7 linked regions of the Homo sapiens genome follow. The protein of the gene in region 6 interacts with the protein of the main gene of each other region in a pairwise test. Each region holds a gene or a part of one and is shown on either strand. Other genes may lie near its edges.

Evidence for each region.
Region 1: the proteins of NOTCH2NLA (region 6) and FRS3 interact in binary tests that used the Homo sapiens proteins (3 or more experiments, as listed by UniProt).
Region 2: the proteins of NOTCH2NLA (region 6) and PIGS interact in binary tests that used the Homo sapiens proteins (3 or more experiments, as listed by UniProt).
Region 3: the proteins of NOTCH2NLA (region 6) and RAB3IL1 interact in binary tests that used the Homo sapiens proteins (3 or more experiments, as listed by UniProt).
Region 4: the proteins of NOTCH2NLA (region 6) and NEU2 interact in binary tests that used the Homo sapiens proteins (3 or more experiments, as listed by UniProt).
Region 5: the proteins of NOTCH2NLA (region 6) and UTP23 interact in binary tests that used the Homo sapiens proteins (3 or more experiments, as listed by UniProt).
Region 7: the proteins of NOTCH2NLA (region 6) and NAXD interact in binary tests that used the Homo sapiens proteins (3 or more experiments, as listed by UniProt).

Annotation. Positions count from the first base shown.
Region 1 is NC_000006.12:41,773,401-41,776,900, forward strand, and holds part of FRS3 (fibroblast growth factor receptor substrate 3), read right to left. Parts: intron 2,206-3,500; coding exon 2,019-2,205; intron 1-2,018. UniProt on the Homo sapiens protein: Adapter protein that links FGF and NGF receptors to downstream signaling pathways. Involved in the activation of MAP kinases. Down-regulates ERK2 signaling by interfering with the phosphorylation and nuclear translocation of ERK2.
Region 2 is NC_000017.11:28,561,525-28,565,024, forward strand, and holds part of PIGS (GPI-anchor transamidase component PIGS), read right to left. Parts: intron 2,384-3,500; coding exon 2,294-2,383; intron 1,999-2,293; coding exon 1,907-1,998; intron 106-1,906; coding exon 1-105. UniProt on the Homo sapiens protein: Component of the glycosylphosphatidylinositol-anchor (GPI-anchor) transamidase (GPI-T) complex that catalyzes the formation of the linkage between a proprotein and a GPI-anchor and participates in GPI anchored protein biosynthesis.
Region 3 is NC_000011.10:61,911,067-61,914,566, forward strand, and holds part of RAB3IL1 (guanine nucleotide exchange factor for Rab-3A), read right to left. Parts: intron 1-3,500. UniProt on the Homo sapiens protein: Guanine nucleotide exchange factor (GEF) which may activate RAB3A, a GTPase that regulates synaptic vesicle exocytosis. Promotes the exchange of GDP to GTP, converting inactive GDP-bound Rab proteins into their active GTP-bound form.
Region 4 is NC_000002.12:233,031,448-233,035,471, reverse strand, and holds NEU2 (sialidase-2), read right to left. Parts: upstream 2,801-4,024; coding exon 2,600-2,800; intron 1,357-2,599; coding exon 415-1,356; downstream 1-414. UniProt on the Homo sapiens protein: Exo-alpha-sialidase that catalyzes the hydrolytic cleavage of the terminal sialic acid (N-acetylneuraminic acid, Neu5Ac) of a glycan moiety in the catabolism of glycolipids, glycoproteins and oligosacharides.
Region 5 is NC_000008.11:116,772,354-116,775,184, reverse strand, and holds the end of UTP23 (rRNA-processing protein UTP23 homolog), read right to left. Parts: 3' UTR 501-2,831; downstream 1-500. UniProt on the Homo sapiens protein: Involved in rRNA-processing and ribosome biogenesis.
Region 6 is NC_000001.11:146,159,522-146,163,021, forward strand, and holds part of NOTCH2NLA (notch homolog 2 N-terminal-like protein A), read right to left. Parts: intron 1-3,500.
Region 7 is NC_000013.11:110,622,045-110,625,544, reverse strand, and holds part of NAXD (ATP-dependent (S)-NAD(P)H-hydrate dehydratase), read right to left. Parts: intron 3,330-3,500; coding exon 3,179-3,329; intron 1,312-3,178; coding exon 1,266-1,311; intron 356-1,265; coding exon 267-355; intron 1-266. UniProt on the Homo sapiens protein: Catalyzes the dehydration of the S-form of NAD(P)HX at the expense of ATP, which is converted to ADP.

The sequences.
Region 1 (3,500 bases), on a different chromosome or scaffold from region 6:
GCCCTGAGCATTCTTTCTAGGTCTGCTCTAGAATCCAAGAGCTACTAGAAAGGCTGGGTCCAAGGTACCCTGCCCCAGCACGCCCACACCACATTGAACACTCCAGCTATATTGCTCTGAAGCGAAATCATTTTCATAAGGATGTGTGTGTTCAGGGGTCACAAGAAGAGAATCAAAACCAAAGTGGAGGCCGGGCATGATGGCTCACGCCTGTAATCCCAGCACTTTGGGAGGCCGAGGAGGGTGGATCACCTGAAGTCAGGAGTTCAAGACCAGCCTGGCCAACATGGTGAAACCCTGTCTCTACTAAAAATACAAAAAATTAGCCAGGCGTGGTGGTGAGCACCTGTAATCCCAACTACTCAGGAGGCTGAGGCAGGAGAATTGCTTGAACCTCGGAGGTGGAGGGTGCAGTGAGCCGAGATTGTGCCACTGCACTTCAGCCTGGGTGACAGAGCGAGACTCTGTCTCAAAAAAAAAGAAAAAAGAAAAGAAAAAAAACAAAACCAAAAGCCAAGGTGGAAAGGATAGTATTAGATGAGTGAACATTCTTCTTTTATTTTTTCGGAGACGGAGTCTCACCCTGTTGCCCAGGCTGGAGTGCAGTGGTGCGATCTCAGCTCACTGCAAGCTCCGCCTCCCGGGTTCACGCCATTCTCCTGCCTCAGCCTCCCAAGTAGCTGGGACTACAGGTGCCCGCTACCATGCCCAGCTAGTTTTTTGTATTTTTAGTAGAGACAGGGTTTCACCGTGTTAGCCAGGATGGTCTCGATCTCCTGACCTCGTGATCCGCCCACCTCAGCCTCCCAAAGTTCTGGGATTACAGGTGTGAGCCACTGAGCCCAGCCAGGTGAGCGAACACTCTACCTCACATGCTTCCCCCATCTTCCTCTGCCTAACACCCCCTGCTTCCTAGGAAAAAAAACTCCATCCAGAGCACCAGCCCTCAGATCGCTGATGACAAGAGGGTCTACTCTGTTCCCTGCTTCTTCACTTATTAGCCCAGTGTGTGGCCAGAAAGCAAATGCCTACTGTATATAGGTCCCTAACCTCATAGATTAAACTCTGGCACGGGAAGGAAGAAATCATGGGCAGACTAGCTAAAGGCAAACATGGCAAGGCAATCACAAGGCTCCTCAATGCAGCCAGCCTCACAGCCCTTCAAATTGCAACACTGCAACTCAAGGTCCCAGGAACAGCAGGACTGGGCTGAGTGTCTGTCAATCAGGGGACTCAAAGATGCCCTTGGGGTACTGGGCCAGCATGGACTCCTCTGTAACAGGGGGACCTGGGACCTAGGGGAGGCTACGTGGGGTGTGCCTGTGCATATACCCACAACTAAGACACAATTAGCCTGGGGAATGGGACAACTATGGTTTGCACAAATAGGATGGGGAGGAAACAGGGAAGAAAAATAACTACTCTGGCAAAATATGACGAGAAGTAGAAAAGACTGGGAAAGACTGGAGTTGTAGAGAACCCCGTGTTGGGGCCAGGGGTAGCCCCTCTGGGAACCCAAGTGTAGATCAAACATCACTAGGAGCAAGGATGCCTCTGCCTGCTCTGCCTGCTCACCCAGCGCCCCTGCCTCTGCCTCATGAATTCCAAAGGTAAGATGCATGGAGGGAAGTCTCCTCCAGCAAACATGACCTCGGAGGCTCACTATTTTGTTGGCAGCCTCATCAGAGAAGCTTGTTCATTCCACCTCTGCACAGCCATAATCCCAAACTGCACTGAACACAATCCCATGCAGGATTCCTTTTGCACAGCTTAAGTCTGGATCCTAAGAGATAAACTCAGACCATGCCACTTCTTCAGAGAGCTGTGGCTGGCTCTAGCCTTGACCTTATGGAATAACCTACCACCCCTGACCTCTGACTGCAGGGAGAATACATCACACTCTACTGCCCACAGGTGATGGGGATAACACTAACCTCTTGAGGGCTAACCTATACATTAGGAACCCTGGAGTACTGCATAAGCCCCTATCCCAGGGTGGAGCAGGGCCTGGTACTCACCCTGGCCTGTCTGACATCGGCGGCCACTCTCAAAGGAGAAGAGGTTGGAGTCGTAGCCATAGCGCCGCAAGCAGAGATAAGGCCAGCGGACGGCCTCACGCCGATGCAGGTGCAGCACCAGCTCACTCTGCGTCAGCTCCATCACCCCAGAGCCCAGCTCCACCCCCTCATCATCCACATTTGTCACCTGGAGGGGAGAAGACAGAAGGGTCAATGAGTGAGTCCAACAAGTGTTTGCATGGGTCCCTGAGCCACTGGGAGACAATCTGATGCAGGACAAGAGGTGGGGAACCAAAGGTCACATCCGACTATCACAGACTCTACTGAATGCCACATAACTACATGAAGCAGTGCCATGGACCCACGGCAGTTCTCTGGGCAAATCCTACTTCTCTAGTGCTGAGTTTTGTCATATGGACAGTGAGGGAAGAGGTAGGTAGCTGACTTCCAAGGTCGGTTTGTTAGATAACAAATGTTAGACGACCCTAGACAGCCCATGCCTTAGTATCCAAGGGCCAGATGTTAATGGGGAAGGGGTTCAATTGTAAATTCAAAATCTTGAGACTGGGACACCCTGACCTAGGAAAGTCAAGCCCAAGGCAGAACCAATGCACATCTCCTCTACCACCTCCCCAACTGTGTGCCCTTACTGAGGGCTCCCTCTTCTGGTGGGCAGGAGAAACATGTGCTTCAACATGCCCCAGAATGAGGAAGGAGGAGGCTCCCTCTACAGAGAGGTGGGCAGGGGAGAGCACAGGTCGACTTGGGTCTGCCCTCAGCTTCCCACAGCAAACAGCAAACACTGATGTTGTGCTTACTGTGTGCTAAGCACTATTTAATTTATTTATTTATTTATTTTTTGAGATGGCATCTCGCTCTGTCACCCAGGCTGAAGTGCAGCGGTGCAATCTCAGCCCACTGCAACCTCCACCTCCCGGGTTCAAGTGATTCTCCTGCCTCAGCCTCCCAAGTAGCTGGGATTACAGGCGTGTGCCACCATACCTGGCTAATTTTTGTATTTTTAGTAGAGACGGGGTTTCGCCATGTTGGCCAGGCTGGTCTCGAGCTCCTGACCTCAGGTGATCCGCCTGCCTTGGCCTCCAAAAGTGCTGGTATTACAGGTGTGAGCCACCGTGCCTGGCCACTAAGCACTATTTTAAATACTTTACGTATATTAACTCACAAATACAGAATTTTGTTTTCTCTAAAAAAAAAAGGGGGGGGGATATATAAAGTTATAAAAATACACTGACAACAGTTCCAAAAGCACCATTATGGCATTTCTTCATTCTTGGTAGTATCAAGAGCCATGAAAACAGCAGTGGTCTGGGCCTCTTTTCCTCAGGCTACTTGAGAGGGTGTGAGCTCAAGAAGTCTCCATAAGCCCACAACCTCAGCCTGGCATTTGATTTGCTGTTAGAGAAGCTGAGGCAACTCCATTAAATTGTGTCTGAGCCCAAGAGGCCATGTTGGGAACACAGG
Region 2 (3,500 bases), on a different chromosome or scaffold from region 6:
CTGGGCCACCTGGACTATGCGGCGGCCAATGATGTTAAAGGCCTCCCGGTGCATTATCCCCCGCACCACTGCTGTCCTCTTGGGCCCAATGTAGCTCATCATGTCCTGTGGGGGTGAGCAAGAGACAGAATGCCCATGGCTCAGAAAAGAAAGCCAAAAAGCACCCTGGCTCCTACTGTTCCGAATCTGCCCCTTTGCCAATGACCAACAGGTTTGCACCTCTCTTGAGATTCATGAGCTATTAACTCAGCATTTCTGAGCTATGAGTATATATTGAGTATTTTCATTTGTCTCCGTTCTCTTCTTTTTCCCAGTTGACATGGGTCCAGGCAGCATCTAACTCTTCAGGGGCTGGTAAAATGGTGAAATGGAAACTCAGAGATGGCATGCTGAGCAAGAAAAGCGGAATAAACAGACAACTGGAGAGTCTGATATAAAAATGGCACATGGCAAAGAAACAAGTATTCATAATAGCATTATTTCTAACAGTAAAACCTAGAAATAATCCAAATGTCCATTAGCAATAGAATGGGTAAATTATGTTTATGTTTATACAATGATACATAGATTCAACTACATAATTATGGATGATTCTCTCACCAGGCTCTGCCACATGAAGGGAATAAAATAAAAGTGGCAGAGGAACATGTGTTATAAGCCACCATTTATATAAATTCAAAAATGTAAAATTAAATACATTGTTTACAGAGATACAGCATATGTGATCAAACTCTAAGGAAAAGCAAGAAAATTACAAACACAAAATCTGGTTGCCTTGGGCCAAAAGGGAATGGAGTATAACCATGGAAGTACACACCGTGCTACTGCACTGCAGTTTGTGAGCTGGGGGTGGGGATGGGGACGTTCATTAACATTTTCTTTAGTGCTTTTATAAAAATTAAATATTTGATTATAAATTTTCTTTTTGAGACAGAGTCTCACTCTGTCGCCCAGGCTGGAGTGCAGTGGCACTATCTTGGCTCATTGCAACCTCCACCTCCTGGGTTCAAGTGATTCTCCTGCCTCAGCCTCTCGAGTAGCTGGGACTACAGGCACCCACCACCACGCCCGGCTAATTTTTGTATTTTTAGTAGAAATGGGGTTTCACCATGTTGACCAGGCTGGTCTCAAACTCCTGACCTCAAGTGATCCGCCTGCCTCGGCCTCCCAAAGTGCTGGGATTACAGGCATGTGCCACCGCACCCGGCCGATTCTTGTATTGTTAGTAGAGATGGGGAGTGCAATGGCATGATATTAGCTCACTGCAACCTCCACCTCCCAGGCTCAAGCGCTCCCCCTGCCTCAGCCTCCAAAAGTAACAGGGACTACCACATCCAGCTAATTTTTTTTATTTTTTGTAGAGATGGGGTTTTGCCATGTTGCCCAGGCTGGTCTTGAACCCCTGAGTTCAAGCAAACTGCCCGCCTCGGCCTCCCAAAGTGCTGGGATTACAGTGTGAGCCACCAGACCCAGCCAGCATTCTTTATTAAAAATATGTGGAGGACGGGTGCGGTGGCTCACGCCTGTAATCTCAGCACTCTGGGGGGCCAAGGCAGGTAGATCACAAGGTCAGGAGTTCGAGACCAGCCTGACCAACGTGGTGAAACCCCATTTCTACTAAAAATACATTACATGGCACATGCCTGTAATCCCAGGTATTCAGGAGGTTGAGGCAGGAGAATCACTTGAACCCGGGAGGCGGAGGCTGCAGTGAGCCGAGATCCCGCCACTGTACTCCAGCCTAGGCAACAGAGCAAGACTCCGTCTCAAAAAAAAAAAAATTTTTTTTTGGAGAGTTTTCTGTAGCAAATGGAAGAAATGGGTAGCAATGATGCAAGAAGGAGGTGACCCAGGAGTCCACGAGCTGAAGGGATAAGGCAAAGTCGCAGCCTCTCTGTTACCTTACCTGGGGAAGAAGTGAGGAGTGTTCAGATATCACGTACACAGTCAGGGAGCCCTCCGCTTGTTCCTGAGGCTCATCTAACATGGCTTCTGCCTCTGGGGGCAAGAACAGGTGGTACACCAAGAGCAAAACACCATTCCATCTCCCCCCAGCCCCAAAGAATGCCTAACCCACCCCTTCACTCACATTCAGCTGACACAGTGGTCAGGCTTGGGTAAGCCAATCAACCTCTCTGGCCCTCAGTGGACTGGGCTGAATCCCACAGTTCCTCATTCCCAGCATTCCAAGAGAGGTTTTGGAAGTAAGCCAAAGCATGGGAACTATGCACTTAGAGATCAGAAGGAAAAAGAGGGCTTCACATTAAAATGGTGTGCTCATCCCTTCCCATACCTTGCACACTGCCCGATGACAGGGCCTCCTCCTCATGGTCCAAAGCCCTCCGATAGGCCTTCTGGAAACGGCATTTGATTTTCATTTTGTCTGGGAGGGATAAGAAGTAGCACAATGAAAAGGGCAAGCATCATGCCTCTGCCCACCTTCCCAGACCTAACACTGTCCAGCATCTGAGGACAGCAAGATGGCTGTTTACAGAAAAAGACCAAGCAGCTGCAGCCAACTCTAATGATTTCTGCATAGATGATATCAAACACATGACACCCATTTCGCCCATCTGCCGCAGCTCTTGCCTTCACCTCTGCACACACTGGTCCTTCAGCGTGAAACGTCTTCCCACTGGGAAATCTATTTCAATAGTCATTACATTAATAGGCAAAAGGAGAAAAACTGTATGGTCATTCCAATCACTGCCCCAAAATAATTAAATTCAGTGAATGTTCCTGATAAAAAACAAAATACACAGGCTGGGCACGGTGGCTCATGCTTGTAATCCCAGCAATTTGGGAGGCCAAGGCAGGCGGATCCCTTGATCTCATGAGTTGGAGATTAGCCTGGACAACATGATGAAACCCCAACTCTACAAAAAATACAAAAATTAGCCAGGTATGTGCCAGACATGGTGGCTCACACCTGTAATCCCAGCACTTTGGGAGGCCAAGGCGGGTGGATCACCTGAGGTCAGGAGTTTGAGACCAGCCTGGCCAACGTGATGAAACCCCATCTCTACCAAAAATACAAAAAATTAGCTGGGTGTGGTGGCAGGCGCCTGTAATCCCAGCTACTCGGGAAGCTCAGGCAAGAGAATCACTTGAACCCAGAAGGCGGAGGCTGCAGTGAGCCGAGATCACACCATTGCACTCCAGCCTGGGCAACAAGAGCGAAACTCCATCTCAAAAAAAAAAAAAAAAAGGCAGTTATGGTGGTGCACACCTGTAGTCCCAACTACTTGGGAGGTTGAGGTGGGAGGATGACTTGAGCCTGAGAGGCAGAGGTTGCAGTGACCTGAGATGGCACCACTGCACTCCAGCCAGGGTAATAGAACCAGACCTTGTCTCAAAAAAATAAAAAATAAAAACCACACACTTAATGACAAAATATTAAACATAATTCTGTAAAGTTAGTAATAAAACAAGGATGCCTGCTATCTCCTCTATTCTCATTGTTATTCAGTATTGTTCTTTCTAAAGTTCTTGACCAATGT
Region 3 (3,500 bases), on a different chromosome or scaffold from region 6:
GGCTGACCTCACCATTTTCCCAACAGGCTCTCATTTTTGCCTTGTGGGGCAGAGTGGGGACAGGGCCCAATTTTGTAGCCAGAGGAAACAGTGGTCCAGGAGGCCTGTGACAGAGTCTGTGACATCCTTCCCATCACCCCCAGTAGAAGAGCCCAAGGCCAAATCCCAATGGCAAGAAGTGTGGGAACATGGGAACAGTGGGACCACCCAGTAGCCACCAACTCCCCAACGCCAAAGGTGGCAGGAGCAGGAGGGAAGAAGGGCCTGACCTGCCCTTGGAGGGTAGCCAGAATCTGCAGACCCTCTTCCTCCTCATTTCCAGGCTGCAAGGCCAACTCCTGAGACTCAGAAATTTCAAAGAAGGGACCCTGGGCTCCTCGGGTCCAGCCCAAGCCAGAATCTCCAATCTCACACACACTTTAGCCTCCCAGACCAGAGGCCTGAAAACCTGGCTGTGAACACCCAAGTCAGTGGTGAACTCAGTCGTGGGGCAAGCAGGGACCACTTAATGTTCTGCTGCCCAGCGTCCCTACCCTCCTCAGTCCGGGTCCACCGCTCTCTGTACAAACCTCCTCAGTCCCCGTTCCCTGCAGAAACAGAGCCCAGCATCTGAGATGAGCCACAGATGCCTCTGGAAAGGAGCCTGTTCAGAGGGTAGGAGTCAAGGTCAGAGGTAGATGGGGCACCCAGCCAACATCCCCCATCCCAAAGCCAGCTCCCACTGCCGAGAGGCCCAGGCAGTTCATACAGGAAAGGCCCCACGGGTCACTTCCCCAGGAAACACACAACCAAAAGAAAATGCAGTAACCACAATCCTCACCCCACCAGGCCCACCCTAGGAGGGCCAGCAGGGCTCTTGCCCCGACCCACAAAATAAGAAGGAGACCTAGACTCCGTGGCCCTCGGTCTCTCAGTGTCCCCAAGCCAGCAGGGCCTGGCCAGTGGCCAGACCAGCCTATTCCTCAACCAGTGCCCAAGATGACCCTGTCCAGTTACCTCCTGGAACTAAAGACCCCTGTTGGTCATGGGCACAATGGATTCATTCAATAAGCAGGGGAGGGGACAGCAAGGGTGGTTCTGAAACTGGACGAAGGAGACGGCTGGGAGGGCACACTGGGACCACTCAGCGGGCTGCCAGGGCCCAGGCCTCTAGGGAGGCTGCAGAAACCCCGACCCAGGGCCTGGCTCCCCGGGGCGGTGCCTTGGCACAGGGGCCTGTTCAGATTCACGCTCAGCCTTTGCGGTGACACTGAGGGGACGGAGGCTCACAGCCATGTGATTAACATCCAGGGACCAAGGGAGTCCCAGGAAAGGGTTGGTGGGCCAGCTCTCAGGCCAGCCTGCAAGCCCAGCAAAGCTTGGCTCCCCTAGAGAGCGGCCAAGTCTTCAGCCCCAAACCCACAAGCATGTCAGGTTCCCAAGCGCTAGGCCACATCCACGCCAGCCCACCACTCCACAGGTGTCATGGCCTGGAAGCTCGGGACAATTGCAGGGAGATGCGCTCCTCCACCTGGTTTCCAGATGAGGCCCCTGAGGTTCAGAGAGGGATGGTGACCTGGCCAGAATGCACAGCAAGGAAGTGGCAGGATGGGAACTGAATGCAGAGTACAGGCATAGCGTATCACGTGGCCTGTCACCCAGAGGAAAGGGGATGAATGGCGGTTTTGGAGAAGTGAGGCAAGAGGCAGATGGGGTTTGAGGAAGTCTGAGACAGCGCCCAAGTACTGGAGGTGCCACCCAAGAATGCTGTACAGCCAGGCAGGACCTGGGCTAAGAGGGGACAGCAGAGGGGACACACAGAAACAAAGATGGGAAGGGGGAATTGTGGGAGGAACAGGGGCTGGATGGGGGGGCAGGAAAAAGCAATAACAATAATTAAGATAATTCAAAACTAAGGAAAAGGTGAAAGCTGAGAACAGCGGTACCCATGCTGGGAGTGAGGAACTGGGAGGGGGTCTTTCAGGGACAGGAAAGTGGGTGGCTGAGGCATCTGGGAAGTGGCACGTCCCGTAGGCAGCTGAGGGGGAATAGGCAGGATGGGGTGACGCTGTCGAGTGGCACTGGTTTCGGGGAGCAGCTGCAGCCTGAGCCTGGATGAGGGGCTGTCAGGGAGGACAAGGGCTTGAGAGCCAGAAAGGACGAGAGTGTTGGACACCAGAGCCGAAGAGTGTCTGGGACCCGGGGATGAAAGAGATCGTCATGAGTCTCACTGAATTGGGCCAGGAACCAATGAGCTCAAGTCAAGGAGGGGACAAAGGGACAGGTGGGAACCAAGGTGGGCCTGGGCCACAGGGGAAGGGGAGCCAGAGTAGGGAGAAGGGCACAACAGCATGTCCTAGTAGAGACCATGGAGGAGGAGTGGGGGAGAAGGTCAGGAACAGCTGGGGATGGGAAGCAGATCAGAACACCTAAAGCAGGTGAGTCAGGCCACGCCTCCGCCGGCCATAGCCCCAGGCCACCAGGCCAGTCCAGCCCACCCCTGGCGGGGGAATCCAGCCCTGTCTCTCCATGGGAGCCAGCACAGGGCCTAGGAGGGGGCGCATCTCACTACTCTTCTACAGGGCTGGGCACGCAGTACATCCTCAAATGCGCCTGTGGCGACCCTGCCCATTCAGTCCAAGAATTGACACCGAAGACCTCCAATAGCTAGTGTGTATACTGAGCACCCATTATGTGCCAGGCACCCCACCAGCCATGATCCATCCAATCTGCACGACCAGGCAGCCCCCTTCTTACCATATCCTATTTTGATTTGCATCTCCCTCCCGCTACCTCATTTCCAAAGACCTATTGGGCATAAATCATGTGCAGAGCTCGGAGGGTCTAGGACAAGCAGGATTCTAATGAGGATGTCTGCCCCCAACACCCATGTCCTGATTAAGGAACAGCAGGAAAGATCTCCACCTGTTGAGGGGTAGAGTAGGCAGTTAGATCACGGAGGGCTTCCAGGGAGCAGCAACAGTGAGGGTTATACAACCCCTTCCCAATGAAGAGGCCTGTGTGCCTGACCTGGAGCCCTCGGGCCATACTTCAGACTCTTGTCTCACGGCCTCTAGTCCCCTGTGACTTGGGCCTTACAGGCAGGAGCCCACAGATCCATGCCCTTAGAATAGCCAAGGCCCAGGGCAGTGAAGTGACTTGCTCAGGATCACACAGCCAGTTGATGGCCCCTACAGCCCTGCCTGCCGCAAAAACATGCTCCCCAACCCCTGGGAGGTTGGAGTGGTCTCATCTCATTCCTGGGCCATCCATCAATGCCTGGCCCTCTCTAGCCATAGGTATGATGAGCCCCGTCTCTGGGGAAACTGAGACCAGGGGGCTGGAACAGTGTCATGCAGAAACTTGAACGCTGGCTTCTGCTGACCAAGTCCCAAGTGTCCAGCACCATGTTAGATACAGAAGTACTCAAGACGCTGTCCTCACCTCGTCACCTTGGAGCAGGCTTGGCACCCAAAACTATGAATGTGTGAAACTGTGGGGAATCGGAAGGGGGACAACCC
Region 4 (4,024 bases), on a different chromosome or scaffold from region 6:
CTCTGCTAATTTACACCATGGTCTTCCATCTCAGTTCTTCCCCAGGAACATAAGGAATGGTTCCCAAGAAGGAAGGAGTTGAACTAGAAATTTGTCAAGACCTACACAAAGCTGGGGGTAGGGGACAGGCAGACAAGGTGACAGCTGCGCTGCAGGACCCTCCACGCCTTCCCTATGGAGGGGCTATGGGAAGCCAGACACTTTTGGTTTCTGGGCTGAAAATAGAACCTTTTGGGAAGACTGGAACCACGCAGGAGGAAAAGAGCAAGAGGTGCACCTCTCTCCACACACGGGCGCCGAAGGGAGCCCAGAGTGGCCCCCACGTCCAGGGGCCACGGGAAGGAGAGGCAGCCGCAGAGCCTCCGAGCTGGGTGTGCAGGTGAAAGGCAGGCCCTTGAGGTGGGCACCACAGGCTCACTGAGGCAGGTACTCAGCTGGGAAGGCTTGCTTCAGGGTGAACATGAGAAAGACAATCTCCTCGTAATCATTGGCTTCGTACAGACACCCAAACAAGGGGGACCCATCAGGGCCGGTGCCCATGCTCTGGAGGTCTGAGTAGGCACAGCTGCCCTTGGCCAGCAGTACCGGCTCTGACCAGGCCTCAGGGGCTGGAGGTCGCGGGTTGAGGTAGGCACCCAGGTCGGCCCTCTGCCAGGAGTGTGTGGGGTGAGTGTAGAGCAGCCACTGGGCTGGGGAGCCAGGCCCCGAGCGGGGGCTGGGGAAGCTGATGACGCTCCCCTGGCAGCCCTGGGGCGGCGGCTCCACCAGCTTCTTCACCAGCTGAGACTCCTGGAAATCAAGCCCGTCATTGGTGCTCTGGGCCTGGACCCTGGCTCGGAGGTGGCTTCTCGCGTTGAGGGTCACCACCCTCTGCTCCCCAGTCTCGACTTCGGCCACCTGGCACTCCAGGGTGTCCTGGGCCACAAAGTGCCCTCGCGCCCACGTGCGCCCATGGTCATGGCTGAGGAAGCAGAAGGCAGAGGGGATCGGCCTTTGGATGGGGTGAAGTTTCCGGTAGGCGTAGGCGGGCACCACCAGGCTCCGGGCCCTGTCGTGAAGCTGCAAACAATGCCCCGGGCCCACTGCAAAGGTGGACCACTCCCGGTAGGCTGGGCCGATGGCCGCATCAGTGAGGTCTCTGGGGGAGCTCCAGGTCCTCCCGTGGTCAGTGCTGGTGACTTGGCACAGCCGCGTCACATTGGCCCTGGTCTGCAGCTGCTGTTGCTCCGTGACTTGCCCAGGGATGGCAATGAAGAAGAGGAAGAGGGTCCCCGTCTGCGCGTCATACAAGGGGCATGGGTTCATGGACCGGTGGCCATCCAGCCGGGCCTGGGCCACCACCTCCTGAGCTTGCCACTGAGTAGGGAGAGAGAAAGAAGAAGGCAGCCTTGAAACAGCTGGGGATGGTGCCAGGAGCTGCATGAGTGGGAGGGGTGGGCACGGGTGTGTCTCCCGGGTTAGAGTCAAAAGTCATCGAGAAGAACTCTTCACCCAACACTCATATCCTCCTTGCAACGTTTCCCCAGAGCTGCGGGGCCCAGGGTGCCACCTCACCCCTCCAAGGCAGCCACACTCGGCTGAGTGATTCTGTTCCTTCCATTGCCATCAATATGCATTTACAGAACACCCACCTGCCAGACCACAAGATATGAAGATGACTCGTGCATGAGCCATTCCCAACTTCATCCTGGTTCCTCCACTTCCCACCCCAGTCCAGCTCACCATCCTTGAATAGCAAAGCCCTGGCGGAAGGTGCAATAACCTGACCAGTACAAGACAGAATGTGACGGTCACCTCTCACCTTCTACACTCCATATCCTACTCATGTAGCCAAGGAGGAGTCACATTGAGCTTCCAGAATCCCCAAGTCTATGTCACATGTGCTGTCTGTCCCCATTTATTAACAGCTACCCCCATTGGGCAATTCTAAGCACAGACACAGCACCAAAAGTCTAACATCCATGGTCTCATCTAATGCCTCAATCCCCAGGGAACAGGTGTTAGTAGCTCCATTATTACAGTGAGCAAGAGACCGCGACAGGGAGGAGGAGTTGCCTAGGCCACATCTGTGGTCAGTGGCGGAACCAGGACTTGAACCCAGGTCCATCTGCTTCAAATCCCATGCTTTGAACAGCTGTGTAGTAATGACCACAAAGGAATGATAATAATATTAAACTCTTCAAATATGATCAGCCAGCCTTGGGTGCTGTCATCAGGATTAATTATTTAATCTATAAAATGGGACTTTAGGACACAAGCCATCACCCCACCCCAAGTCCCCAAGTTAATTTTACTCAAAGGACACAACCCTCCATTATGCAACACTGAACTATTCCTCCGTGAGGTCATCACGGATGCTGGGCAACTCATTCAATCTTTCATGAAAACAGATGGAGGCCAGCTGGACTAATTCACAGTGAACCCAGAGGTCCAGGGAACCATTAGGGGCACTTTCTCTGCTCTATCTCTCCTCCGGAGTACAGCCATTGAGGGATAAAGTTGTCCCTGTATTTCTTGAGATCCAGGACTGGCCCCTGATCACAGCAGCAAAGGGTGTGGCAGAGCCCTGGGGAGCCAGTGCAGACACCTCCTGCCTCACCTGAACCTGGTGGGTGGGTGCGTCGTAGTCTCCTCTGCGCAGGACAATCAGCTCTGCGTGCTCATCCTTCTTGCTTGCCCGCTGTTCCGCGAAGGCCAGCAGGGACTGCTGCCCAGGCAGGTAGAGCAGGGCAGGGATTCTGTAGGCATGGGCTCCCGACTGGAACACGCTCTCCTTCTGCAGGACAGGAAGGGACGCCATGGGGCTGGGGGGTGGACAGGAAGAGAAGATGTGTCACCTGCAGCCACACCTGAGATGGGCTCAGAGTCATTCACCAAGACAGGTGGTGCTCACCCCCTGGCTGAGTGGACCAAAGTCAGGGCGGCCTGTCCTCTTCCCGCGTGGGGTTCATTCTCCTTTCCTACATCTCAAGACCCTGCTTCTTAATTCTGCCTTTGCCTCGGTGGATATCGGGAGGGGGTATTGCAAAAGCGTGTTTTGGATTCGATTTTTATTCTAAGTTAACAATGCTCCTTACAACAGATTTTCGATAACCTCCAGCTGCTTTTGCCAAACCCAGCCCATCAATCCAGGGGCAAACCTCGGGAGGACAGCAGTGCAGGCCGGGTGGCATTCGGCAGCTGCCCAAATGCCAGAAAGTGACACATGGGAGCTTTTTATAACTCCAGAGCCCTAGAAAGTTGTTTCAAAGAAAAGGAAAAAGAAAAAGCATGGCTTCTAAGGCTCTGCTCCCCAGGCTGCCTGAGGCTGAGGCCCGTCTGCCCCCGCTGCTGCGTGGGCTCCCCCTGAGGCAGCGAGGGGGCGGCGCTGCAGTGGGAAAGGAAGAGACAGGGGCTCCTGACAGCTAACCCAGGCTGGGGGCGTGGGGTGCTCCAGAGGTCTAAGAAAATAACAATTAAAAATAAGTCTTCAGCTAAAAAGGGTAGGGAGGGGACAGAGGTAACTTGGGGACAGTGGGTGACAGTGATTTTCGGGCTAAGCTGCCTAGGTCCCTTTAGGAGGATGCATCCCGCAGCTCTGGGGAGTGTTGGCTGCAGGGCCCTGGCCTGGGGAGGATGGGCCAGTTGTTCCCAGATGAAGAATCTGCCCCAGGTCATACCCAAGAAGGGCTGCTTGATGATTGGTCCACTCAGAGCCTGAAGACCCTCTTCCTGAACTCCTGACCAGGAACAGTGCGGCTCCGGAGCTCCCTCCGGGCGGCTGGGCCTTCCCTGAGACTGCATTACAGCCGCCTCTTTCTCTGCTGCTCCTCCCTTTCCCCCAGAGGCTCTTGCCTGCCGTGGGTCTCCGTGTCAGAGCCGGCGTCCTGGGCACCCCGTCTGAGACACAGCCTTTGCAGAGGGCAAGTGGGCAAGAGGCCAGCAAGAGGGGCAAGGTTTGCCTTTGTGCACCCTTTTGTACTGCTCTCATTTTTCTACCACATGCATGCGTTATCTATTTAAAACTTAGCTTCTTTGAGAAATA
Region 5 (2,831 bases), on a different chromosome or scaffold from region 6:
GTAGTGCAGTGACATGATCAAGACTCACTACAATGTCAACCTCCCAGGCTCAAGTGATCCTCCCACCTCACCCTCCCATGTAGTTAGGACCACAGGCACATGCCACCACACCTGGCAATTTTTCGATTATTTGTAGAGATGAGATCTCCCTATGTTGCCAAGGCTGGTCTCAAACTCCTGTGCTCAAGTGATCCTACTACCTTGGCCTACCAAAATGTTGGGATTACAGACATAAGCCACCACACTTGGCCTTCATTTTCATTCATTCAACAAATATGTATTGACACATTCTACTCAGTACAAATTCGTGTATTATACATTCTATATTCTTATATGGAATATATATTTTTATAGAATATATTAAATGGAATATATAGAATATATCCTTATATGGAATATATAGACTATATTCCTGTATGGAATATAGGTATGGGGATAGTATTCACAAAACAAAAACAAAAACAAAAAAAAACAAAAACTGAAGTACAAGGAGATGAGACTTTTGTTAAAATATCTTTTAATTTTACCGGCAAAATACATCAATGACTAATATATTCCCGTATGGAATATATTCTTATTGGAATATATTCTTATATAGAATATATAGACTATGTATATATACATATGTGTATATACCTATATACATATATATATCTTGGAGATATAAAACTAATTGGGAATAATGTCATATATATAGATAGTAAGCAAACATTTTTTAAAACATTTTAAAGACTCCAAACTATTCATTTCTATCCACCTATAAAAAACTAGCAATTAAACCTGTCAAATCACAGCCATCTTGCTTTACGCAGATTCAGAAACATGAGATCCTTTTACCTTTGAAACTCTAGTTTCAAAGCTGTTCTAAAGTGACTTGGTTTTAATTTATATACTTGCAGGGATAAGAAGTAGCTGTAGGGCCATAAAAATGTAAAGAATACAGTATCGTGCCCATACACAACTGCAAACACTTATTTTTAAGTGTTCGTAAAAGATAGTGGTCTTCAGAAACACCCCTTTTCAGATTGGCAAACTTTCAGAGTTCAAAAGTGCATGTATTACACTTTTATCCCCAACAAAGCTAGTAGCTACCCTCTAAAGCAGAGGTTAACATTTTCTTTTTCCAAACCACAGAATGGATTATGATCCCATGTGCATACTCCCATGGTTCCCTTCCCCAAGTTGTATGAAAAAATAAAGCAAATAATTCTGAGGTTTTAGGGGTAGTGGTATAGGGATAGTATTCACACACAAAAAAACTGAAGTACAAGGATATGAGACTTTTGTTAAAATATCTTTTAAAGTAATTTTACTGGCAAAATACATAAATGATTAACCAGTTTTAAAATAGTAAACTTATTTATTTATTTATTTTTGAGACGGGGTTTCACTCTCTCACCAGGCTGGAGTGCAGTGGCATGATCTTGGCTCACTGCAACCTCCGCCTCCTGGGTTCAAGCGATTCTCCTGCCTCAGCCTCCCGAGTAGCTGGGACTACAGGCGCACACCACCACACCCAGCTAATTTTTGTATTTTTAGTACAGACAGGGTTTCACCATGTTGGCCAGGATGGTCTTGATCTCTTAATTTTGTGATCTGCCAGCCTCGGCCTCCCAAAGTGCTGGGATTACAGGTGTGAGCCACCATGCCCTGTCAAAATATTAAACTTACTAATACATTGTAATTTTTAGTACTTCTATAATTACTGCTTCATAAAAAAGTGGATTTTTCCAGCTCTCCAGTTCAGATGCTATTAACAGGTAATCAGATAGCACTGACTAAGTAGAAATAGATTAAGAGTAATACCTAAATTTAATGTATTTTAGCATATTGAAATGAGTATCATCAGTGTATATTTCATTTATCACTTTGTCTACACTTTATTAGGTGGCCTTAATGCTTGTCATTGACAAATGTTAACTTTCCTCACAAAACCTACACTATTCACTTTTTTCCAGTATTTTTACCTTCCTTATTAAAAATGTTTCTACCATCAAGAATTTAAAATAGAATCATGACATTGCAATCCAAACACTACCTTGGCTTGCCAGATTAGTCTACGTGTCACTCCTTGGTGTAAAGCTATAATTCCAACTTCCAGCAAAGAAGTATCTCTGAATTCAAATGAGAATGACATTTCTATGGGAATAAATGTGAACTGTCTCACATTTAACCATTAAGAATTTACTCATACGTCATCATGATAACCTAATGTTAGACTGAGAATCACTGCTCTAGTGTGGCTCCAGAAGCTGTCAGTCAGGAACTACTGATACGATTTCACTTGTCCAATAATTTTATACTTCCATCTTGTAGTACAAAAACATTTTAATTTTGGCCTGATAAATGACTAAAACAATTGCCGGGGGAATTCAGAGAGACACGTTTCATTATTCAATTCCTAACTGAATTGACCCTCATTGATCCTCAGACTAATTTAGACACTTTTCAATAACATTCACAGTCAATCTCAAAGAGAATATTATTTTTGAATTCTTGCTATTGAAGTTAACATTTACATCTAAAAGAAAATCATCATCCTTATTGGACAAGTAGAACTCAAACAAACAAACAAAAAAACTCTAGTCATAATAATGAAAATACTGAGTTTCTGATGTACAAAGAGTAAAATATTCATATACTGGAAAAATGGTGCAGTATAAATGGGCAAAATTTCACTCTTTCTAGTAGGAAGTCAATAAATAATTGATGTATCAAAAAGTAGCGGTATAATCATACAATTTGGAAATATAAATTCTTCAACTACTAGAATTGAAAGAGGAAGTTTCTTCTGTCAATGTGAAAGAGGGACTGCCTCTTTTTTTGTCACA
Region 6 (3,500 bases):
ATAGGCACTAACTTGCTGCCTATGCTTCTTCATCTCTGAGTGGAGATGAGCTAGTAAGCTGACTGAGGTATAGCGCTATCACAAAAACCAAAAGGATGACCTTGATCTGTGATGATTCCTAAAGTGATAGACAAAAATAGCATATGTATAAAAGATGATCAGAATCGGCCGGGTGTGGTGGCTCACACCTGTAATCCCAGCACTTTGGGAGGCCGAGGCGGGTGGATCATGAGGTCAGGCGATCCAGACCATTCTGGCTAACAAGGTGAAAGCCCATCTCTACTAAAAATACAAAAATTAGCCGGGCATGGCGGTAGGTGCCTGTAGTCCCAGCTACTCAGGAGGCTGAGGCAGAAGAATGGCGTGAACCCGGGAGGTGGAGCTTGCAGTGAACCGAGATTGCACCCTGCACTCCAGCCTGGATGACAAAGCAATACTCCATCTCAAAAAAAAAAAAAAAAAAAAAAAAAAAAAGGTGATCAGAATCTTGCAGAACACACCAAGAAGAGATCCTTCTTAACAACAAAGGAAGAAGTTTTAATTTGGGACCATTTCAGAGTGACATTTTAATTATGAAGAAGGCATTACTGTCATTTCCACTAGCCAGAATTAAAATATTTTAAGTGGGTATATGCCCCCCTACTTTGCCTCCTAATAGCAAAACAACTCAAAACTGACAATCAGGAAGAAATTATTCTTATAACACCAAATATTTTCAGTGACTTACATCATCAATACCATCATCATCATGATGGAGATCATGGATCATCCTAACTACCCTCTACCCCACCAACACCTTTTGATGAATGATATGGTTTGGTAGTGTCCCCACCCAAATCTCAACTTGAATTGTATCTCCCAGAATTCCCATGTGTTGTGGGAGGGACCCAGTGGGGTAACTGTATCATGGGGGCCAGTCTTTCCTGTGCTATTCTCATGAGAGTGAATAAGTCTCATGAGATCTGATGGGTTTCTCAGGGGTTCTGCTTTTGCTTCTTCCTAATTTTCTCTTGCCACCACCATGAAAGAAGTGCCTTTTGCCTCCCACCATAATTCTGAGGCCTCCCCAGCCATATGGAACTGTAAGTCCAATTAAACCTCTTTTCTTCCCGGTCTCGGGGATATCTTTATCAGCAGCGTGAAAATGGACTAATACAGTAAATTGGTACCAAGAGTGGGGTTTTTGCGAGAGTGCCAGCTATCCCGAGGGAAACTTTGGAGGGAACCAGCTACTAGATGGTTCAATTAGTCTTTCGCCCCTACACCCAGGTTGGATGACCGATTTGCACATCAGGACTGCTACGGACCTCCACCAGAGTTTCCTCTGGCTTTGCCCTGCCCAGGCAGAGTTCACCACCTTTCAGGTCCTAACATTTGTGCTCATGCCCCACCTTCCCAGTGCAGAAAACAAGATGGGCCGGTGGAAAGCTGACCTGGCTACTGCCACCGCAGAGTGCCCAATTTGCCAGCAGCAGAAACCAACACTGCGCCTTTGATATGGCACTATTCCTCAGGGTGATCAGCCAGCTACTTGGTGGCAGGTTGATTATGTTGGACTTCTTCCATTGTGAAAAGGGCAGATGTTTGTCCTTACTGGAATAAACACTTACTCTGGATATGGGTTTGCCTATCCTGCATGCAATGGTTCTGCCAAGACTACCATCCGCGGACTCATGGAATGCCTTATCCACTGTCATGGTATTCCACACAGCATTGCCTCTGACCAAGGCATTCACTTTATGGCTAAAGAAGTGCAGCAGTGGGCTCATGCTCATGGAATTCACTGGTCTTACCATGTTCCCCAACATCCTGAAGCAGAACGGTGGAATGGCCTTTTGCAGTCACAATTACAATGCCAACTAGGTGAGAATACTTTGCAGGGTTGGGGCAAAGTTCTCAAGAAGGCTGTGTATGCTCTGAATCAGCGTCCAATATGTGGTACTGTTTCTCCCATAGCCAGGATTCACAGGTCCAGGAATCAAGGGGTGGAAATGGAAGTGGTACCACTCACCATCACCCCTAGTGATCCACTAGCAAAATGTTTGCTTCCTGTTCCCGTAACATTAAGTTCTGCTGGCCTAGAGGTCTTAGTTCCAGAGGGAGGAACGCTGCCATCAGAAGACACAACAACAATTCCATTAAACTGGTAGTTAAGATTGCCACCAGGACACTTTGGGTTCCTACCTTTAAGTAAACAGGCTAAGAAAGGCGTTACAGTGTTGGCTGGGACATCAAGGCTATCAAGACCCAGGCTATCAAGATGAAATCAGTCTACTACTCCAGAACGGAGGTAAGAAAGAGTATTCATGGAATACAGGAGATCCATTAGGGCGTCTCTTAGTATTACCATGCCCTGTGATTAAGGTCAATGGGCAACTACAACAGCCCAATCCAGGCGGGACTACAAATGGTTTGGGCCTCTCCATCAGGAAAAAAAAAAACACAACCTGCTGAGGTGTTTGCTGAAGGCAAAAGGAATACAAAATGGGTAGAAGAAGGTAGTCATCAATACCAGCTACTACCATGTGACCAGCTGCAGAAATGAGGACTGTAATTGTCCTCAGTATTTCCTCCTTCTTTTATTAAAAACATGTCTGTGCTTGCACACACTTGTACTAAGAAAATATCTTCATTTTATTTCCTTTCTCCTTTATCATGTGACATAAGATTTATTGACTTCACATCAGCATTTAAGTATCGTTAACTTTATGTAAGAGTGTTTCAGTTGGGGACTAGTGTGTTTCCGGATGTATGAAGAATAGTTGTACTACATCAGGTGTAATTATGACCTAATTATTGTCTTTATTTGAAGATTATGTGTGATCTCAGGAGATGTGTACGGGTTCAAGTTGACAAGGGGTAGATTTGTGGTGGTTAAAACTGAGTGTGTCAACTTGATTGAATTGAAGGATACAAAATATTGATCTTGGGTGTGTCTGTGAAGGTGTTGCCAAAGGAGATTAACATTTGAGTCAGTGGGCTGGGGAAGGCAGATCCACCCTTAATCTGGATGGACACCATTTGATCATCTGTCAGCAAATATAAAGCAGGCAGAAAAACATGAAAAAGCGAGACTGGCCTAGCCTCCCAGCCTACATCTTTTTCCCGTGCTGGATGTTTCCTGCCCTCAAATATCGAACCCCAAGTTCTTCGGTTTTGGAACTCAGACTGGCTCTCCTTGCTCCTCAGCCTGCAGACAGCCTATTGTGGGACCTTGTGATCATGTGAATTAATACTTAACAAACTCTCCTTTATATATATATAAAGATTGCCAATATATATATATTAAGATTGCCACCAAGACACTTTGGGTTGGAATATATATACATACATATATATTCCATTAGTTCCATCCCTCTAGAGAACCCTAATACAATGAAAAATTAATATAACAGTATTCTACACTAACTGATCCAGTATAGTCTTCTGAGTACATTTTTCACTTTTTTGCTTATTGCATTTATAGAACTCTTGGTTTAGTGCTTAAAGCAGGAGAAAAA
Region 7 (3,500 bases), on a different chromosome or scaffold from region 6:
CCCACAGGGCCTCCCTGCCTCTGGAGCTGGGCCCCGGCCATTTCCAACAGGCCCAAGCTCCCCCACCCACCTCTCCACCCCGCCGTCTCTGTCTTATTCTGACCCCAGAAGAACGGGCTCCTTCATTTCCCTACTTCCTCTACAGCACCTGCTGAGAAACTCTGAGGATGGAAAATCCATCAGGACGCTTTCGGTGTCAGTGCCAAAACCCCAAATGATGCAGGAGGGAAAGAGAACCTACGAGAAGCCGGCGCAGAGCGACTCACAGAACTGGGTGGACGATCAGCTCCGGGCTGTAGGCCTTAATCACAGGTGCGGCCGCACTGGCACAGAACACGTGGGACAAGTCTGCGCCCTGATGAAGGAGCACAAGAGGCCGACTCAGGGATCGCTCCGGCATCGCTGCCCACCCGCCAGACACAGGCGTCCAGCGCTCATTACTCAGCCCTGGTGACGTGCATGAGAAACGTACTAGCTCGGATTACACCCAGCCAGGTGGCTTAGCAAAGGGCCAGGGCGCAGAGCACAATACCTAAAAAGAAAGACTTTTGCCGCCACTGCAGAGGCAGGGTCAGAGCCACACACACCAGCACGGCCCAGCTCGGTCTGGTCACCCTCCAGGAGGAAGGGTCACAGGAAGAGGCCGGCCGTTAGCACTTGCTCAGCTCATGGGAAACTGCAGGATCAGCGGCTTCAGCTGCGACCTACAAAGGCATCCCAGGTGCACTTTGGTGGAGTACAATACAAATCACGCTTTAGGTTTTAAAAATGGGCTTCAATTGAGGCCAGGTGCAGTGGCTCACGCCTGTAATCCCAGCACTTCGGGAGGCCGAGGCGCATGGATCACGTGAGGTCAGGAGTTCGAGACCAGCCTGACCAACAGAGAGAAAACCTGACTCTACTAAAAATACAAACAAAATTAGCCAGGCGTGGTGGCAGGTGCCTGTAATCCCAGCTACTCGGGAGGCTGAGGCAGGAGAATCGCTTGAACCCAGGCGGCGGAGGTTGCTGTGAGCCGAGATCCCGCCATTGCACTCCAGCCTGGGCAAAAAGAGCGAAACTCTGTCTCAAAAAAAAATGAGCTTCAACTGAAGTGATCTTGTTTATGCACAGATGTCAGGATAGACTTAACGGTGTTTCTATTAGCTATGATTACCCTAAGATATTATTTAGATTTCTATCAGAAAACATTTGCTTTAATCATATTTAAATAATCAAACTCTCTACCAGAAAAATCCCAATAAAGAAATTTTAAGTAAACATACCACTTTGAGAGCTGAGATTGCTGCAAAATATGGGGCTCCAGTGTACCTAAAAAGAAGGTATTTAGAGTCAAAAACTTCTGAGAATAAGGTAAGCATACCTTGATCAATAAATAGGTTATCAATAAAAAATAGACATAAATAATATAGACATGGTTTATCAATAAATAACAGAGACATGAAGCACACAGCACAAACCCAACACCTAAAAGATGCTCAGCAAATGTTCAATGAACATGAACCAGGTTCGACTAGAAATGTCTTTTTTTTTTTTTTTTTTGAGACAGAGTTTCACTCTTGTTGCCCAGGCTGGAGTGCAATGGCACGATCTTGGCTCATTGCAACCTCCGCCTCCTGGGTTCAAGCGATTCTCCTGCCTCAGCCTCCTGAGTAGCTGGGATTACAGGCATGCGCCACCACACCCGGCTAATTTTGTAGTTTTAGTAGGGACAGGGTTTCTGCATGTTGGTCAGGCTGGTCTCAAACTCCCAACCTCAGGTGATCCGCCCGCCTCGGCCTCTCAAAATGCTAAGATGACGGGCATGAGCCACCGCGCCCAGCCAGAAATGTCGATCTTTTACATAAAACCTTCATGCATTTCAGGAGAGTGAATCTCTGGCAGTAATGCCTGCAGTCTCCCTGCAATGTGAATGTTCAAGGTAAGGAGCTGACCGCAGGCTTCTGCCTGGAGAGAAGAAAGTGACAACCACATGTTCGGAGCAGTCGGGCATGGACAGGGTCCCAGAGTGGGCAGACCCCGTCCTCCAAGAGTCACAGTCAGCAGAGGCCAGATGGGGGCCACCTGGGACAAACAAGAAACGGCACCCACCACCCAGCTGCTTCCGCCTGGCTGTTCTGGAATCCCTGGCTCTCCAGGTCTAAGGGCACTTCAGGCACAGAAAGGAAGAGCCCTGCCCTCCGTCAGATGGGCAAATGCAACCTTTATGTCCATTCCGAGCAGTGAAATGTTTTGCTAACCCAAGAAAGAGAGACCTGGGCAAATGCTGATACCCATCACCTTACATGGCCTTCTCCTGCAAAGCGGTGTCAATAGCGTTGTAAATGCAAAAGACAGTACAGAACAGGCAACATACATGCACACACTCTTCCATCATGTGAAAACAAGCCTCACTAATAAGAGAAATGCATTAAAACAACAAGAAAGCTTGTCGACTTCACTAGCAAAGGTTGTCCTCCAAGGGCTGCAGGGAACAGGTGCTCTTGGGAGGCAACACACACTAACGCAATGGGGGGACAATTCGGCAGCGTCACCAGCATGTAAAATGCACACATACCTGATCCAGTAACAACTCTAACACACCCTATGGCACGATCAACAGCTGCAAATGGAGGGATGGGCAAAGAGAGATACCACATCCATGCAAACAGAAAGCAAGCAGAAACAGAGGAGCCACGGCAGGCTTTCCGTCAGAGGCAGAAGGTATCCTTCACACCCAAGGACAACTTACAAACAGCTACGTACCAAACACAGCAGCAAAACAGAACAGAAGCAAGCTAGGGATTTGTCAAATTTCATAAATGACTTTCAGTAACATCTTTAAATTGACAAAGTAAACCAAGAGGTTGCTGAGTGTTTCTATCCTAAATACAAAAAACATGCTTGTGGTATGAAGTCCAGTTAAATACAGAAAAGCAGAAAGTGGAAAAAACAGGCTCATTTCCCCACTACGACAAAACTTAACACTGACACACATGAGGGAGTAATTCAGTCAGGGCTCCTCAGAGTTATTTCCTAGTTAATCAAAAAGTGGATCACTGAAAAATACTGAGTGTCCTATCAGGCTGCATTTGGAAATGATTACTGAGGTCAAACTAGACAGCGTGAATGACAGTCAGGTAAGCAGCCAGCCAGCAACTGACTTTTTAAACACCAACACTGCACATCAGCTACTTACTCCTGACAGCCTCCAACTACGCCTATTCTTCCATCTTGCCCTTTGTGCTTTGTGGAAGACAGAGGAGGTATGATATTTCTCACCAGCTGCAAAGTATTTTCCATATCCTTTATCGAATGTGCTTTACGTAGCGAAAACGCTCTTTCTAAAACTGAAAGACAAGAAAAATGAATAATTCAGAAAGGTAAACAGATATTGTTAGTACACATAATAGCCCATTAACCAAAACCCTCTCCAAAGTTATTACGAATGCTATAGATTTTTACCCAATGGATTTCTGTAAGCAAATATGATGTTCAAAATTACATTAACACATGCAATT